Linked DNA regions of Homo sapiens: region 1 is linked to region 2. The links come from fine-mapping of genetic effects on gene expression. A gene starts in region 2. The other region holds a variant in brackets. All regions are shown on one strand. Distances are from middle to middle.

Region 1 (5,377 bases), 86 kb after region 2:
TCAATGTTGGGGCCATGGGTGTGAGCCAGGCACAGGGCAGAGAGGCTTGCCTGCCATTCTCTGCAGCTCAGACACAACAGCAGCGTGCGGATGGTGATGGCGCTGCGGGGTCACACACAGGCTCGAATCCCAGCTCTGCCATTTATCAGTTGCATGAGCTTGGCTATGTTCCATGATCTCTTTCAGACTCAGTTTTCTTGTCTGTGAAATGGGGGTGTCAGTCTCTACCTGACGGGGTTGTGGGGCTTCCCTGACATGCCACTCGGTGTGTGGCTTGTGCTGAGTGGCAGGTTCTGTCCTTATTCCAGCCTGGTGGCCGCTTGTCAAGAGCGAGCCCTTCCTATGTCTGCAGAATTCAGCCCATCAAGGTTAATCAGAGCTTTCAGGCCAGCCTGGGAACCTAGCCACCCTTGGGGCCAACTTGCTGTGGGAAGCCCCGCAGTGGGCAGGCCTCTTCTTGTTCTGTGGGCTACCCCAAGAACCCTTCAGATCACAGTCATAGGACTGGCTCATTATTCGACGTCTGTAACTCTGGGCATGTCGGCGAAGTGCTGCGGGTCCCTCCGGAGGGACATCTCACTCGTGGTTCTAGCACATTCCAGATTGCACCACATTACTGTTCGAGGGCTTTCCTCAATTAAAGGGTCTAGCTGCTGAGGACTAGTGGGGCACAGACTTGCTCTCGTGGGTCCTGTGTCTGGTGGACGGGACAGACGGTGGCGTCATCAAATCAGTACACAAGGTCATTCCAGAGTCAGATCACGCTGTGAACCACAAGGAGTCTGAGCCAGGTACTGTGGCAGAGTGGGAGGGGAGGGCCACCACTAGCTAGGTGGTCAGGGCAAGCCTCTTTGAGAAGGTGCCCTTTGAACTTGGCCTGAGTGATGTCACAAGCCAGCGAGGTCTGGAAGGCAGGGAGCTGAAGTGGGCACACTCCTGCCTCGAGTTTCAGGAAGAACACAGTGGTGGAAGAGGCACGGTGGGCGAGGGAAAAAAGGAGGTGAGGGGGGAAGGCCTGGGGAGGAGGGCCTGGTGGGCCATTGTGATTAGGCACCTAGATTTTATCATAAAAGTACTGGTCTATGTTTCTTTCTGTTTTCTTCCTAGTAGAACAATAAACATCCTGGTATTATTTCAGCAATCAGTGAGAAAGGCCAAACCAGGGGCGGCAAAGGTTGTTTTAACCTATTTTGGAGGGAAGTTGGGGAAACAGGCAGCAGCTGCTGGCAGCCAGGAAGCAGTTAGATGGGTTTTCTCAGAAAGAACTAAGACAGCATTCCTGGTGATGATTGTAGCTATGGGTAGGGTTAGGAGTCTGCCGGTCTAGCTTCCCCCTTTCTCTGGGTATCTTCCAGAGAGTAAAAACCAAACTGAAAAACCCTGGGAAGCCTGGAGGCCTTTGTTTGTGTTTTGGTGTGGTGATTGTTTTCCCGGTCATGAGGCAGAGGGATCATTTCAGTATCACAGGGTCAGCGGTGGCCTGTGCTTTTTACCCTTTAGCCCTCATGGAGGCAGTGGCCATTTCATGACGGTGGCATGGAGCTGTGGCTTCCGGCTCGACAAGCTCCCAGCTGCTTGGTCCCAAGCAAAGCCCTTATGTGCGTTCAATGTGGGTTTTCTGGTCTGCAAAATGGACCTAATGGGGCCAGATGCGGTGGCTCACGCCTGCAATCCCAGCACTTTGGGAGGCCGAGGTGAGTGGGTCACTTGAGGTCAGGAGTTCGAGACCAGCCCGGGCAACATGGCAAAACCCCGTCTCGACTAAAAATACAAAAAGTAGCCAGGCATGGTGGCATATGCCTGTGATCCCAGCTACTTGGGAGGCTAAGGTGGGAGAATTGCTTGAACCTGGGAGGCGGAGGTTGCAGTGAGCCGAGATCGTGCCACTGCACTCCAGCCTGGGTGACAGAACGAGACTCTGTCTTCAAAAAAAAAAAGAAAAGGAACTATAAGGCTGAGAGGGACTGTGGAAGTCCAGTCTGGGCACGTATGCCATGTTCAGTAAATGACAGCCATCAAGAGCAGCATCTTAAGAGCTGAGAGTTCGCCTAGGCCGCATTCTTTGTACATCTGGGCTTCCTAATAGAACCCTGGACAGTAGATAGGCTGGGTGGCAGCACTCCCTTTTACAAACTGAGGCTCGGGGAGTGGGGGGGAGCGAAGCAACTGGCCCACTGCCACACAGCTGGGAAGTCCCAGAGCTGGAGTTCAACCCCCAACTTTGTGATTCTAAATCCCTCCCCATGCCCAGGTGGCCTGGCTGCCTCTGTGGTCAGGGGTTGTGTTCATATCGTGGTCATCCCCTGGCACTATGCCTTCTAGATAAGTTTCCTTTCATCTTCAAGTCACCACAACTGAGAGATAGAATAGAGGCTGATTTTATTCCTCCCTTTATGGGAAGGCAGGGACAGTTGCAAGAGGCAGGGTAACCTGCCCAAGGTCAAACTCCAGGCTGGGTGTGGCTTTCTGACTGCTCTGACCGGACAGGAAGGACACAGAGCTAACCCAGCCAGGGCCTCCTTCCTTGACACAGCTTTCCTCAAAGGTGTGTGTGATTTTTTTTTTCTTTCTTTCTTTCTTTCTTTTTTTTTTTTTTTTTTGAGACAGGGTCTTCCTCTGTCACCCAGGCTGGAATGCAGTGGCACAAATACAGCTCACTGTAGCCTCAACTTCCTGGGCTCACGTGATCCTCCTGCTTCAGCCTCCCGAGTAGCTGGGATCACAGGCACGTGCCACCATGACTGGCTAATTTTTTTTTTTCTTTCTTTGTAGAGACAGGTCTCTCTATGTTGCCCAGGCTGGTCTTGAATTCCTGGGCTCAAGCAATCTTCCTACCTTGGCTTCCCAAAGTACTGGATTACAGGCGTGTGATTCTGAGGTCCAGGGAGACTCGGGGCTGGGTTGAGTCCAGGGAATCTCTGGGGGAGAACTGCCTGAGAGTGGAATTGCCCTTTCCATCCCCAGTAACACCTCATATCCTGCTCACTGCCCCACCTGAGGCTCCCTGAAGGAAGACGATCAAGAACAAGCCTCCCATTTTACAGATGGGAAAACTGAGCCCCATAGAGGCAAAGC[A/G]GTTTTCCCAGGGTCCCAGCTTGGTGCTGTGTGATGGAGATAGCTCTAACTGTAGCTGTCAGTTGGGGCTGGGGTAGGGGAAAGTCACTGTCTAGTCCAAGGGAGCAGTAAAGATGACATGCTGATTTTCATTCTTCCTTTAAAGAAAAAATTGATGTTAAAAGTAACTGTGGTGAGAGGGTTGGGTTCTTACTTACAAGGCAGCTTTGCAAGAGTAAACAGAGTAGACAAAAATATCCCATCAGCTGGGCTTCTGCAGCTTCACAAGCTACTGATCCGTGCAGTCAGAGGGCCCCAGGTTCAGAAGGGCCCTGGGCTTGGTTTAATGCTCTGCTGTCGCCATCTTGAAAGTGATGAATAATTTTTGGCAAGGGGCCCTGTGTTTTCATTTTTCATGGAGTTCTACAAATTATGTAGCTGATCTTGCATGGGGGCAGGGAAATCGTTAATTCAGAATTCACTTAATGCCAAAGCATTTTACCTCCATTGTCATGTGACCTCAGAGGGACCTTATAGATGAGCACACATGTCCCCATTTTTAAGAAGTGTTAAATGACCAGTAACTGATGTAACTGTTCCAGTCATCTCTTGCTACATAACAAATCACCTCAAAACTTAATAGCTTAAAACAATGGTCATTAATTTTGCTCACAAATCTGCAATGTGGCCTGGACTTAGCAGGGGAGGTGCATCTCGGCTCACATAGTACCAGCGGGGGTGATGAGATGAGCTGGAGAATCCACCTCCAAGAGGGCTGGCAAATTGGTACTGGCTGTCAGTTTCTCTCTGTGGAGCTTCTTGGGCTTCCTCACAGCATGGCTGCTGGGTTCCTGGAGCCAACAACTCCGGGGGCAGGAAGTAGAAACTGCCAGCGTCATAAAATTTGACCCCGGAAACTGGCACTGCATCCCCTTTGCTGCATTCCAGGTAGTCACAGAGCCCAGACTCAAGGGGAGGGGACACAGATCCCACCCCTCATTAGGAGGAGTGTCAAAGAATCTCGAGATCTTATGTGTCAGCAGGAGCACTTCACATACTGTCTCATTTTAGCCTCTCGGTAATTTTGCCATTATTGTCCTTGGAGTTGGCTCAAGGAAGCTACATAACCTGGTGGAATCCCAAGTTCCTCTGGCTGGAATTTGGATCCAAGCTGGTCTGTCTCCAGAGTGTGAGCTCTGGACTGAGCAGCTGACCTGTGCATTCAGGGACCCATACAGTCAGAATGTGGCAGGACTGGAAAGCAAGCTCACATCTGTCTGATTAGAGAACATCTGAGCTTGGTACCCATACAAACTAGGCCCTATCTAGTTTTTAGATAGGGAAATCAAGGCTCTGAGAGGTCTTGCCAGGCCTCTCCTGAGGAAGAGGGCAGGGTCTGGGACCTTCCAGGGCAGGATGGGGCCCCCAACTTGGGTTGCACAGAACCATGTCAGGAAGTCACATAGAGTTGTGGGTAGATTATGCAAGTACAGGCTGTCAGGAGGGATGTTGTTTTTCACTGCAATTACACTTCACTCAGGAAATACAGCTTCTGCACGTACTGAGGGAGGGTTCCTCACCCTGTGCAGAAGACCTCCTGGTGAATACCGGGGCACTCGCTGGGTGACCCTGGGTCCTCTGGGCCAAGTTCATGCATCGAAAGTTCCCTGAGAAGCTCTTTGTGCCCATCTGGGTTGGGCTTTGACAATAGAGTTGAAGAGGCTTTATTCCTGCCATGCATGGAGTCACAGGTTAGTAAGAAAGATGATAAGAGCTGTACTTGAGGCTTTCGTGTGCTCTCACTTAAACCTCACAGTGCACTAGGAAGTAGTTATTACATTACCCCTATGTTACAGATGAGGAAACCAACACGCAGAGTGGCTAAGCCAGTTCCCCAGGGTCACACAGCTGCTAAGTGGCGCAGCTAGGCTTTGAACCCAGGCCACCTGGCTGGAGTCTGCGTCCTCACACACTTGGCCATGCTGCTCCATTGTGGCTCAGGCCGAGGTCACCACTGTGCTGAGGCCCCAGCCCTGAGTCCCAGACCCTGTAGAACACTGTGCAGGCATCCATGGGGCTCAGTGAATGCACAGGGAATGGAATTTGCTCTTGGTTTTTATCCCACCTTTCCTTTCCAAAGCCCAGCTGTGGCCAGGCCTCTCCCTCACAGAACCTTCTATGACTCCCTAGTGCCTACATGCCAATGTCTGCCAATCCAGCTTTGCTGCTACCTCCACAGCTCCCATATCTAAACCTCTCCTGAGACCCGACTGTTTCCGCTCAGTCACCAAATACAGAGGGCATATCCTCATCATGAAATCTC
Region 2 (5,377 bases):
ATGACATGATGAGATCAGATCTAGAATTGCGGCACAAAAAATGACAGAAACCACTTTTTGACTGGGAAGAGGGCTGGGGGACAGGAGACACTGCCAGGAAAGCAACAAGGAGGAGGTGGCATTGGAACAGGTTAGGAAGATGATCAGGAGTCTGTGTGCGTCCCAGGTGGAGGCCAGCGTGGGCAAAGGCTGGCAGGGGTGAGAAGGCTGCACATTTGGCTGGAGTATAGGTCCAGGAGAAGTAAAAAGGCACAAGGGAGGAGTCAGCCCCTGCCAGGCTGTGAGCAGACTTGTGCACCCTTGCATTTGGGTGACTCTGACCCAGGGGAGCCACTGCAGGGGTTCCTTTCCTGCAGAATGGGCATAAAAGTAGGACCTTGTTCATGGGGTTTTCATGAGGATACAAGAAACCAATGCCTGAAAACTCTTAGCACAAAATAAGCACTCAAAGGTAGCTGTTATTGTTATCATTAAATGAATAATATAATTTTCTACGTGGTCCTCTGCCAAAACACACACCATACTTCCGCAAGGGTTCTCTACAGGGGAGTGTCTTGGTGAGATGTGTGTGCTAGAAAGGTCTCTTTGGAAATCCATGGAGGGAAGGATATGAGGGAGAGACAAGTTTCCACAACATCTATAGATTTATCCTTTTTAATGGATGTGCAATATTCCATTAAATGGATGTACCACAATTTCCGTAATCATTTCTTGTTGTGAATCTCAGAGTATTTCAAAAATTTATAAATAATATATAAGGAAATGTTACTGTATAGTTTTCTTTTTTCTTTTTCTAGTTTTCCAGTTAAATTATTTCCTTAGTTTTTCTTCACTGAGGTGAAATTACTGAGCCACTCACAAGTAGTACACATTTTTTTTTTTTTTTGGCTTTTGCTAAAAATTGCCATACTGCTTTCTGAAAAGGGTTGTAACATTTACCAGCAGAGTATGAATGAGTATTCTGGTCTCACCACAACTTTGGGGTTGGATTTACCAAAATTGTTTTTATAAAGCAAAAAAAAAAAAATGATGATTGTATAGATCTAAAAGGTTATCAAAGGTTGCTTGAATTTGCATTTCTTTAATTACTAAAAAGGTTAAACTTATAAAACTTGTAATTGATTTTTATTTGTATTTCTCCTTGTGCAAGCTATTTTGATGCTGTTGTTCATTTATTTATTCAAAACACCAGCCCTTCTCTCTCTCTCTTTTTTAATTAAACAAAAAATAGAGATGAGGTCTTGCTACGTTACCCGGGCTGGTCTCAAACTGGGCTCAAGTGATCCTCCAACCTCGGCCTCCCAAAGTGTTGGGATTACAGATATGAGCCATGTCACCCAGCTGCCAGCTTTTCTACTTTTGTAGTAGAAAGCTCTGGACTGGGAAGCAGGTGTCTTGCGTTCCTCCTGTCCCTGTCTGGTTCTGTCATTATCACAGGCAGGTCACTTCCATAATTGCTTACCTCATTGTTTAACATAGTCCCAGCTCAAACAGCCTAAGATACTGGGCCTGGTACATCCAGAGGAGAGTCTGGAAGTGGGTCTCTTGGGAAGGGGCATGATGGAGCAGTTTTCCCAAGTGGAGTCCAGCAGCCCCAGGAGGGTTGAGCATGGAGTGGTCAGTTGTGGAGACCTTGCTGGGAAGTTCCTGGTGGGAGGTTATCACTCCTACCCTATAGGGCCTTCACCTGATGGAGGCCTGGTACCTCGCAGGACAGATCAAGGTAGACACAGAAGCCAGAGTATCCTTAGGCTATTCTGGGCTCAGGGAAAATAACTGGCCCACCCTTAATTAGAGCACCTAGGACTGCCTGCCTATTTCTGAGCCTTGGCTTTCACATCTGAAAACCAAACAAAATCAGTCAAAAGAACCCTTGACCTGTGGCCCACCCAGCAGATGCTCAACACAGACACACGGAATGTGGAATAAAAGGAGCAAAGAGAAAACCCAGGGGATGGGGAAGCACTGGAAGGGAAAATCATTCACCAGCAAATGAGAACATAGTACGAGGAGGCTTGAATCATTTCTGTTAGGAGAGAGTGCCAGCCGCCTCCTCCAGGAAGAAAACTCTAAAGGGTCAGGCCTCAGGGAAATAAAATGATCTATACCATCCATCAGTTCCTCCAACATTCAGTCCATCCATCTACCAATCCACCCACCCATTTACCCACTCACCTGCTGCTCATCCATCCATCCATCCATCCACCTATGCATCCATCCATCCATCCATCTATGCATCCATCCATCCACCCATCCACCCACCCATTTACCCACTCACCTGCTGCTCACCCATCCATCCATCCATCCATCCATCCATCCATCCATCCATCCACTTATGCATCCATCCATCCACTTATGCATCCATCCATCCATCCATCCATCCATCCATCCATCCATCCACCTATGCATCCATCCATCCATCCATCCATCCATCCATCCATCCATCCATCCATCCACTTATGCATCCATCCATCCATCCATCCATCCATCCATCCACCTATGCATCCATCCATCCATCCATCTATGCATCCATCCATCCACCCATCCACCCACCCATTTACCCACTCACCTGCTGCTCACCCATCCATCCATCCATCCATCCATCCACTTATGCATCCATCCATCCATCCATCCATCCATCCACTTATGCATCCATCCATCCATCCATCCATCCATCCATCCATCCATCCATCCACCTATGCATCCATCCATCCATCCATCCATCCATCCATCCATCCATCCATCCACTTATGCATCCATCCATCCATCCATCCATCCATCCATCCATCCATCCATCCACCTATGCATCCATCCATCCATCCATCCATCCACCAATTTATCATCCACTCACTGATTCATTTTACAGCAAATGCTTATGAATGGGGATGGGTGGGTGATGGTTGCTTTTTCTGCAGTCTCCCTAGGCCAGTTGTCCCTTCCAAAGAATCTCAAGGGCATGGGAGAAGGTCCTGGCTGATCGTGTCAGGGACAGGAAACTACTCACATTTCACCGTTTCTTGGGGCAGGAGTGGAGGTGGGGGCATTGGAACCCCCTTGGGGCCTCCTAATATCCTGTGAGTCCCCACCTCCAGGGCCAGAAGCTGCCTGCCTCCGCTCCCCGCAGCCCAGGTGCGGCGGGCAGCACACTCCCTAGAGCCAGGACCACTAGTTCCGTCAAATCCGGGGCGGGCCATTCAAACAGCTAAGGGAGGCGTCTCCTAGTGTGCCTTTTCCTGAGTCATCTCTGCACGTGTTTGCCCCCTTTTTTCTTCGCTGCTTGTAGCTAAGTGTTCCTGGAACCAATTTGATACGGGAGAACTAAGGCTGAAACCTCGGAGGAACAACCACTTTTGAAGTGACTTCGCGGCGTGCGTTGGGTGCGGACTAGGTGGCCGCGGCGGGAGTGTGCTGGAGCCTGAAGTCCACGCGCGCGGCTGAGAACCGCCGGGACCGCACGTGGGCGCCGCGCGCTTCCCCCGCTTCCCAGGTGGGCGCCGGCCGCCAGGCCACCTCACGTCCGGCCCCGGGGATGCGCGTCCTCCTCGCCGCGCTGGGACTGCTGTTCCTGGGGGCGCTACGAGCCTTCCCACAGGTAAGCGGGTGACGGGCGCCTGGGGAGGTGCCGGCGGTCCAGAGCCCGGACAGTGTGGGGTGCGTGGGACGCAAGGGAGGACACTCCTCACCCCGTTCCCTGCCCAGCTGGAGTGAGGGGGCGCGGGTGACAAGCAGGAACACCGGAATATGCTAGCACCCACAGGTGGGAGGCTGGCTGAAGGGCTAGTGGTGGGGGGCGCCTCCTTCTCACCCCGCGATGGCTGGGACTGATTCATTCATTCAGTGTGAATTGGACTGAGAGCACTGCCATACGCGGGAGGCGCTCTTTAGCCCGCCTACCTGCGGGCCCGTCGGGGTCCTGGGCAGATCAGGTGAGGCCGTGGGAGTAGTGGGCAGGCCAGATGGGGCCTCCCTTAGCCATGGGAGGTTGGTCGTCCGCGCTCTACCCTGTTGTGTGCGCGGTCCCGTTTGCCCCCTTCCTAAGCTGGCCACTGGCTGGAGGGTCAAGGAAAGGAGGGAGAGTTGGCTGTGGGTGAGAGTGGGGTGAGGGTGCAGGACCACCGGGATTAGCTTCCCCAATCCGCGTCCGGCAAAGCAACGCTGTGGATTGAATTCGCTGGAGCACGTGGTGGGCATTTGCCCCTGGAAGAAGGTCAGTGGTGGGGCTGAAGTCTATGGTGGGTTGCCTCAGAATTGAGTTTGGGGACTGCTTTAGGAAAACTGAGCACTTACCAGTGGCCAGCGCCAAATTAATCACTGTGGGGAGAATGCAAAGTAACCAGGCGTGTTTCACGGAGCCCAGGGGCTGCTGGAGAGAGAGGCCCTCAGCTGACCCAGGACCCCGGTGGACCCCTGCATAGAACCATAGTAGGTGCGAGTGGATGCCTGCTGAATGATACAGAGGGAAAGGAAGGAGCAGGCTGTTAGTCCAGCGGTGGGTCACGGTGGGGGAGAGGGAAGACCCAGTTCCCCTTTAATCCTACAGGAAGAGAGGACTCCATGCTATGGATCAATTCTAGTCATCTGAACCTTAGGCAGTGGGAGGAGAGTGGCAGAGTGGGCTTTAGGCAGGAGGGAGGAACTATGCAGCAAAGGAGGAACTATGCCCTCTTCCATTTCCAATGGGCAATGTGAGGTATTCCCCCTTTCCCCCCAAGAGGGCAGAGGGGACAAAGCCCTGGCTAGAGACACCCTGTCCCAGCTCTGCAAGCCCTCACCTGGGGGAAGGTAAGAGTTTGGAGTGCCAAGGTCTTGGGGAGATGAAGGGAAGGAAGAGATGTGAGAGGTGCTTGGGGGGCTTTGCTGGTTTGGTTTGGCAGCTGAAGCTCATGTGCTTCCTTTCTGTAGAGTGAAGCCCCCTCCACTTTTTTTAATGTTAGAGACAGGGTCTCACTCTGTTGTCCAGGCTGGAGTGCGATCATAACTCACTACAGCCTGAACTCTCATACCAAACCTTTTTTTTTTTTTTTTTTTTTTGAGACTGAGTCTCACTCTTGTTGCCCATGCTGGAGTGCAATGCTCGATCTCGGCTCACTGCAACCTCTGCCTCCCGGATTCAAGTGATTCTCCTGCCTCAGCCTCCCAGGTAGCTGGGATTACAGGCATGTGCCACCACACCCGGCTAATTTTTGTATTTTTAGTAAAGATGAGGTTTCACCATGTTGGTCAGTCTGGTCTCGAACTCCTGACCTCAAGTGATCCTTCCGTCTCGGCCTCCCAAAGTGCTAGGGTTACAGGCATGAGCCACCACACCCAGCCTCCCATACCCTTTTTAAAATAAAAATACTATATATTTAATTGCACAAGGAATATATAAATATAT

Evidence for each region. PIP is the estimated chance that this variant, and not a neighbour inherited with it, causes the effect.
Region 1: its variant is the best candidate, but not a certain one, in a credible set for the expression of TNFRSF8 in whole blood (INTERVAL, PIP 0.83).

Annotation. Positions count from the first base shown.
Region 1 is chr1:12,146,076-12,151,452 of GRCh38, forward strand. No RefSeq gene overlaps it. Among named protein-coding and RNA genes, the nearest start is that of MIR7846, 18 kb to the right of the region's middle. RefSeq lists enhancers at 414-493, 2,347-2,476. The variant A/G (reference allele first, on the strand shown) is at 3,076.
Region 2 is chr1:12,060,070-12,065,446 of GRCh38, forward strand. TNFRSF8 (TNF receptor superfamily member 8) reads left to right here and starts at 3,234. Exons shown (of 15, transcript NM_001243.5): 1 at 3,234-3,592. The coding sequence starts at 3,530. RefSeq lists silencers at 2,677-2,909, 3,497-3,626.